Linked DNA regions of Homo sapiens. The protein of the gene in region 1 interacts with the protein of each later gene in a biochemical or structural test. Each region holds a gene or a part of one and is shown on either strand. Other genes may lie near its edges. The genes, in order: CASKIN1 and CASK.

The links.
Region 2: the proteins of CASKIN1 (region 1) and CASK interact in a biophysical measurement, tested with the Homo sapiens proteins (2 studies listed by IntAct, with this or other methods).

What each region holds. Positions count from the first base shown.
Region 1 is NC_000016.10:2,179,311-2,183,122, forward strand, and holds part of CASKIN1 (caskin-1), read right to left. Parts: intron 2,620-3,812; coding exon 2,481-2,619; intron 2,290-2,480; coding exon 283-2,289; intron 16-282; coding exon 1-15.
Region 2 is NC_000023.11:41,528,389-41,532,200, forward strand, and holds part of CASK (peripheral plasma membrane protein CASK), read right to left. Parts: intron 2,822-3,812; coding exon 2,619-2,821; intron 1-2,618. UniProt on the Homo sapiens protein: Multidomain scaffolding Mg(2+)-independent protein kinase that catalyzes the phosphotransfer from ATP to proteins such as NRXN1, and plays a role in synaptic transmembrane protein anchoring and ion channel trafficking.

The DNA.
Region 1 (3,812 bases):
GGGCGCGCTTCACCTCTGCGGGGAGGACCACGCTGGCACCGAGCGGGCACGAGTTCCGCCGCCGCGCCCCCTGCCCCAGCCTCCCGCGGCTTCCTCCCCAGCGGACCGGGAAAGACCCTGCTCACCTTGCCCCCAGCCCTGGATGGATGAGAGGGTCTGGGGACACGTTCCCACCCCACCTGGGCTTCCATCAAACCCAAGAAAAGGAAAACCCCTCAGACCACCGAGTAAGGAGGTGGAGCAGGGTCCTGTTGCCCCTTCACCCCACCCTGGCTGGCCTACCTGGGCTGCCAGGGCCTGGCAGCGGCACCTTCTTGGAGGTGGGTGTGGGCGAGCCCTGGAGCTTGGGCACAGGCTGCGTCAGGACGGGCTTGGGAGAGACAGGCGGCTTGGCCGGCTTCCGGGCTTCGCCCTCGGGCGGGGGCAATGGGGGTAGGTGCGCCAGGTCGGTGGGCGGGGGTTCGGCAGGCGGGGGCGGTGGAGGCAGCTCCGGAGGCCCAGCCTGCTCCGAGGCCGGTCGGCGGCGCACGGTGCCAGTGCCATTATGGTACACGGACAGTGGCGGTGGTGGCTCAGGCCCGGCCTCCCGCTCCTTGGCCTTGGGCCTGCGCTTGACCGTGTCAGACTCGGTCAGGATGAACTTGACGTTCTCCTGCTGGTTCTGCTTGGCCCGGATGCGCCTCTTGAGTGTGGCGCTGGCTTCCACCTTGGCCAAGGGCGGGCCTTCGACACCCGCCTCGCCCTTGGAGGGACCCCGAGGCCGCTGCCGGCCAGTGCCATCCTCCACAAAGGGGCCTGGGTCTGCCGACTCCCCAGGCCCCCGGCGGGCAGTGGCCAGAAGTCCGGTGACTGGCCCGCTGAGCGTGCGGCGCCGGTTCACCACCTCCCCGCCAGGCCCGATGGCCTCTTTGTGTTTCACTGAGGCCAGCACGGTGGCCACCCGGCCCGGCTCTGGGCTGGCAGGGCGGGGAGTGGGGTGGCCCTCAGGAGGCCTGCGGGCAGCCCGGCCCCCACCCCCAATGGAGGACAGCTCCAGCATGGCCGCGATGCTCTTCACACTGCCGGCACTACCCGTGTCCACGCTGCCGGCCAGGTCACTGGCCCGCCGGCACTGTGCCCGGACCCCCAGCAGGCCATCCTCAGGCTCGGCGTCAGGCACCGGCTCATCCGCCAGGTTGGCACTAGCCAGGGCCGAGCTGGAGCGCTTGGGTGGGGGCGGCGGGGGCCCCTTCTTTCGGGGCCGCACGGCAAAGGACTGGCTGCGGTTGACGTTCTTGTCGGCACCTGCGGGCGCCCTCACTGAGTGGCTGCGGCCCACGCGCCGCTGGACCGTGGCATAGGGGCCGGCAGCCGCAGGCACCAGCAGCTCGTCCCGCTCCGGCTCGCTGTCGGACGCCGCATAGCGATTCAGGCTGTGGGCCCGCTTCTTGGGCCGCCCCGGCTCCGCGTCGGCCTCAGGGGGCAGGCACAGTGTGGGCACAGCCGTCGGCACGGGTGGGGGCGCAGGCCCCGGGGCAGCCGGCCCCACCTCGCCCTCCACGGGCTGGGGCAGCACGTAGGCAAAGCCGCGGTGCGTCGGTGACTGAGGCAGGGAGCGGGGTGACATGGGGCGCTCTGTCGGCGGCAGCAGCTGCGGGGTGGGCTTCACCTTGGCCGTAGCTGGGGCTGGACCATGAGGTCCCCCAAGGGCCTGGGGAGAGCCTGGTCGGGTTTTGGTGGGCGTCTGGGGGGGCGTGAAGTGGCTAGTGCCTGGTGGGAGGACCTGCCGTGGCTTGCCAGGCACGGGGGGCACGCTGGCCCTCTTGATGCTGTGGCCGTGGCGGCCGGGCCGGGCCTCCCTGGGCGGGGTGCCGGGGGCGGGGCCCTCATCCAGGAGGTACTCCTGGCTTCGAGACATGGGGCTGCTGGGCCCAGGGGGCCCATCTCCCAGCAGCTCCTGCGAGCTGCTCATGTGCCGTGCCCGACCACCCAGGCTGGAGTCCTGCCGCGTGGTGGCCCTCGGGGTGGGTGGCAGGTGGCTGGAGGGCTTCTCAGTGGTGGGCCCCACCTCAGCCGGGCCAGTCATGGCAGCCTGCAGCTCGTCACTGAGCTCGCTGTCCTGGAAGGTGGTCATTTTAGGGGACTGGCAGTCGGCCGGTGTGGGCTCAGGCGGGGGCGGCGACTCGATGGCCATCACTTCAAGAGACTGGGGCGCCTTCCGGCGCAGGGGGCCCCCCTCATACTTGGCGTATTCAGCCTTCTGCAGCTCTGCCAGCTTCCTCACAGCGAGCATCAGCTTCTTCTGGTGCCCTGAGTGGGGCGCAGGGGGCAGGTCAGGTGGACCAGGAGGCGGAGGGGCAGGGGCCGGGCTAGGGGCGGGGCTGGGCTGGGCTTGGGGCCCAGCTTGGGGCTGGGGCGGGGCTGGGGCTGGGCTGGTGGCTGGTGGCTGGGGCTTGGGCTGAGGGTTGGGCTGGGGACGAGGGCTGGGGCTGGGGCCTCACCCAGCTTGGTGATGCCGATCTCCTGCAGGTCCTCCCAGGTGATGTCGGTGATGAAATCAATGTTCTCGTAGCCATTGTCCACCAACACCTTGTAGTACTGGGCCAGGCCGATCATGGACAGCCACACGGCCAGGTTAGCCTACAGAGCAGACACACAGAGGAGCCACCTGGGCTGGCTGCCCGCACCCTGCCCATCTACCTGGAGCTGGAGGAGGAAGGGTCACCGGGCCAGCAGGGCACAGACAGACAGGAGGACAAACGGATAGGCCGAGGTATTGGCACCAGAAATGTAGGCAGAGCCTCGGCTCAGGCACCGGACACTGCATGCCGCATATCGCACACATGCGCACACACGCACGGCTGCCCACATCCACAGGACACCCTTGTCGGGGGGGCAGAAGAAGGCACTTTCCCACCCGGCCAGGCAGCCACGAGTACAGCACCATGGGGAGACACACCCGAGTCATGGACACAGACGCATGGGGCCACACCTGGTACAGGAACACGCACATGATTTGCACGCTGCGCTCCCAGCCGTGCACAGGCACCAGCACCCCATCCCGTTTCACACTCTGACCTCTCACCCACATCACAGGGCCACACACATGCCACACAGCCACAACACACACACGTGCCAACACCCACAGCAATCTGCACCGAGAAACACCCGATCACTCCCCGAGCGGCATTCAGGCGTCCACACTTCCAGCTGGAATTCACTCATGCAACTGCTCTTGAACACTCAGCCACCCCCAGGTGCGCGGCAAGGCCCGTGGGACCCGGACCTGACCCCTAGGAGGATCCCCGAGCCACCAATTGAGTGAGGCAAGGCAGGGTGAGTGCAGACCCACGCGCCAGGTGGCTTTTGACAGCCACCGATCGCCTCTCCCGTTGGGAGCCCAGAGCTCAGTGTGAGGCCCAGAGAGTCCGCTTCAGTTGGGCTAGGCCTGGGCCCACCTTCTTCAGGCCCGGAACCCATCCCACTGCACAGGCACCTCCCTGTTGTTTTGCTTTGTTTGAGACGGAGCCTCGCTCTGTCGCCCAGGCTGGAGTGCAGTGGCGCAATCTCGGCTCACTGCAAGCTCCGCCTCCCGGGTTCATGCCATTCTCCTGCCTCAGACTCCCAAGTAGCTGGGACTATAGGCACCCGCCACCACGCCTGGCCAATTTTTGGTTTTAGTAGAGACTGGGTTTCACCGTGTTAGCCAGGATGGTCTCGATCTCTTGACCTCGTGATCCACCTACCTCGGCCTCCCAAAGTGCTGGGATTACAGGCGTGAGCCACCGCGCCCGGCCGCACCTCCGTGTTAATGACGATTGGCCATGGCGTGT
Region 2 (3,812 bases), on another chromosome or scaffold:
TAGACGTGCTCAATTGGGCCTCAGTTGTCTGAAATAAGATGGCATAAAGTATTAGACCTGTACTAAAAGAGCTGGACATGTGTTAGGTGGTTTTCCTATGGTCCACATGTAGTTTGGCAGAAGTGAGAGGATTCTAAAAAATGCCACAAGGCCCTTCTGTTATGGACAGTTTTGGATGTACAATGAGGAAGGAATTTCATCCTCACCATCTTGTCTTCTGAATTGTATTCTTAGCTCCTGACCCTGTGCTTGACATATAATAAGGGCTTAATACAAGTTTGTTGGATTAAATTGTCTGTAAGATACAGTAGAGGGGTCATCTAAGAAGCTGGAGTGGGAAAGGGGGATGGAGAAAAATGTCCTAAGGAGAGAGCCTCCCTGGAGCAGTGAGGCTCTGCCTGAAAGCAAGTTGTTCATGGTCACGGGTATCCTGAAGGCAGGATGAAGGCCTTGTCCAGCTGAGGAGAGACTGGGCTGAGGGCAGAGAAGCCCGAGAGTGAAGCCCAGTCGGTGCAGACTGCGGGCATTCTCAGCTGTACTGTGGTATGCAATGGTCATTGTGAGACCAGGACTGGCATGAGGCTGGCCTGCGCAGGAGGGCCTGGGACCAGTGTAGTCAACCAGACCAACAGGAGGAGCAGGACCTGGGCAATCCCTATCCCCAGGGCCGCTGGCCCAAAGAGACTCAGGCAGCCAGGATGCCTATGGCCGGCCCTCAGGGCTAGGTGGATCTGAGAGATCACAGTTCTGAGAGGCAGGGACCCAGGAAGCAGGAGAGAAGAGTGCAGGTGAGCTCATCCAGCACTCAGGGGAGCAGAGGAGAGTGCCCAGCCGGGGTGAGGAGGTGCTTTGGGGCCAAGTGCAATGGGTAAAAGTAACTGCTGTGGGTGTCCTGAGGAGGCTGAGAGAAGTGTCTCCCACTCAGCAGTGCAGAGCAATGCATGGCTGTGCAAGGGCAAGGAGAAAGGGAGAGCTGGACGCTATGGGTGGAGCAGCAGCAGCAGCGGCAGCAGCAGCAGTGGCGGTGGCGGCGGCAGCAGCGGAGGCAGGTAAGGCAGAAAGCCCTCGAAAGTGGACTTAGGTAATGCAGAGGGAGTCTGAGGAGCCCTGCAGCCAGCATACTGCTAGAGACATTACTACCAGCAGAAAACGACGTTCAGGTGAAGACCAGTGTGGAACCCAAGGAGAGGATGTCGAAGACCAGGACCAGGATTGAGACTTTGCCTCTAGCCACCCCTGGCCAGAAGATTTTTCCAATCCCTAGTAAGGAGGGATTAGTAGTTAAACAAAAATCAATCTGTGGTACACATCATATATTTAGTTCTATATAGGTCCAAGTTAATTGTTAAGTAAACGGCAGTGTTCACCCTACTGCTGCTTTCCTCCCTAGCCCCTTGAACAGATCCTTTTGTGGTTTCCAAAGTTCCAAGTTCAAGAACCCCATCAGGTGTTGTAAACGGAAATGGGTGAACCCACTGGCCACGAATTAGGATCCTGGAGCCCAGAAACTGAGCTGTCAGGTCCCAGGTCACACAGACTCTGGCTATATAGGTTCTGTCCTTGCTTTAGGGATGGTTAGGGGACCAAGTCTCATACAGTGGCCCTTGAACAGGGATTCGCCCTGCCTAAGATAGCCAGGTAAGCCTCCTGATGAAACACAGCCTGCTTGAGGGAAGCTGGTCTACTATTTCAGCAGGTAGCATACTGGTTCTATTTCTAAGGGTTAAAGGAGATTTGGTACAGATCAGTCCTAGAAATGGCAGACCCAGGAGTCACATGGCACCCACAAGCCTCTCCTATAACCCACCTTGATGTCTACAACTCCCAAATCCTTCCTACTATACTTTGCCTCCCATATCTACTTGGTTTGTACTCAGAGATGAAAAAACAGCTTGTCAGCATTTTTGATGTAAAGCCTTCAGCTTTCTCTTTTTCAAGTTTAATAATTCCTACTGCAAGACATATCTAGAAACCATTTCATCATCTCTGTGTCTGGCTCTCTTTTGAGTCCTCTTCCAAGTCTTTATCTCTCTCCTAGTTTTTGCTCAGGGTCAGGCATTGTGCTCAGGTAAGGAAATGGCAGAGGCTGAGAGCCACCATGGGTTTCCATCCCTGCTGTCTCTGACATCTGGGCTCACTCATGCTTGCTTTCATAAAGCTAGTGCTGTGTTTCAGACCCAGGCCCCAGGATCAGTTTCTCACTGGAGATTAACATAATGTGCTGGTAGAGGCTCTGATGGTCCAGCGTGAGCTGTACCCAGAGAGGGAAGGTGGCTGTTGTGATAACAAAGTGCCAGAGCCTCATCCTGAGGTCAGATGATCGTAGGATTTCTGGCAGGCGTAGACACAATCAGGAACCTTACTGAGCTTCTGCATATAATAAACCTCTTAAGAGAATAATCTCTGCTTCTTAAATACATGGTGTGTGCACTGAGTCCAACGATTAGTCAGCTGGCATTCTAGACTGTGAACCCCCAACGCCTCCATTACTGATACTTTTCTGTGGTTTATGAAATTATTATGTGACCTGTGACTTTCTGATGGCATTTTTGATTTCAGAATCTGTGCTTATTGGCATGCAGGCAGGATGTCAGACATTCGGGGAGGCTGGGCATTACCTGAGGCTCCACGTCCAGTATTGCAATCAGCCCCTGCTCGTGGATCTTCCGGATGGTCTCCAGTTTTGTCCCATACATCGCATCCTCGTGGCTGCCGTACTCCAAGTACTCGTTATTAGAGATGTCTTGCATCATTTGGTCATGAGATACAAAGTAATAATTCTTTCCATTTTCTTCGTCTTTCTTTGGAGGTCTGGTTGTATCTGCAAAGTCGCATGGCACAAGAGGTTTAAAAGGCTGAGCTGATGAGCTTACTACACTCCCAACAGATTTACTCAAACCCAGTCTCTTCCTAAAAGCTGTGGATTCTTTAGCGTATATCTCATATCCCCTGTTCTCACCCCCAGTGGCTTTGCAGAACTAAATTCTAGAAACCATATTTATCTGTGTGCATCACACCATAGTAGCCAGTGAATTGTCTGGTTTGGTGAAACTTTCAGTGTTCAGGTGAGATGTATTTTATCCCTTCATGAACCACCACAGGAGGAAGACGTGAAATGACCCAAGATTAATATAACTCACTGTATGCCTTAATGCAGTTGGGTCTTGTGTAGAAGGAAAAAAGGAGAATAAAAAAATGGAAAACTGCATATGGTTAAATTTAAATAAGCCAAAATTAAATAAAATTCAAATTTTAGTTTCTCAGTCTCACTAGTGGCATTTCAAGGATTCAATAACCACGTATGGTTAGTGGCCACTGTACTGGACTGCACAGACATCAAGTACTGTCATTGTCACAGAAAGTTCTATTGAAAAGTGATGTTCTATAACATCTTGCAAAAGGAGAATGTTAGGATACAGCAAAAGACACGTTACACTGAAAACACAATGACTGTGGCCAGACATACCCATAATTATTATGGAAGACCTAAATCAGGAGGTGACAAACTGGCTTATGGGCCAAACATGGTCTACTGTCTTTTTTTATTTTTATTTTTTTATTTTGGAGACAGAGTCCCACTCTGTAGCCCAGGCTGGAGTGCAGTGGTGCGATCTCAGCTCACTGCAACTTCCACCTCCTGGGTTCAAGAGATTCTTGTGCCCTCAGCCTCCTGAGCAGCTGGGATTATAGGCGTGTACCACCATGCCCAGCTATTTTTTGTATTTCCAACAGAGACGGGGTTTCACCATGTTGGCCAGACTGGTCTCAAACTCCTGACCTCAGGTGATCTGCCCGCCTCAGTCTCCCAAAGT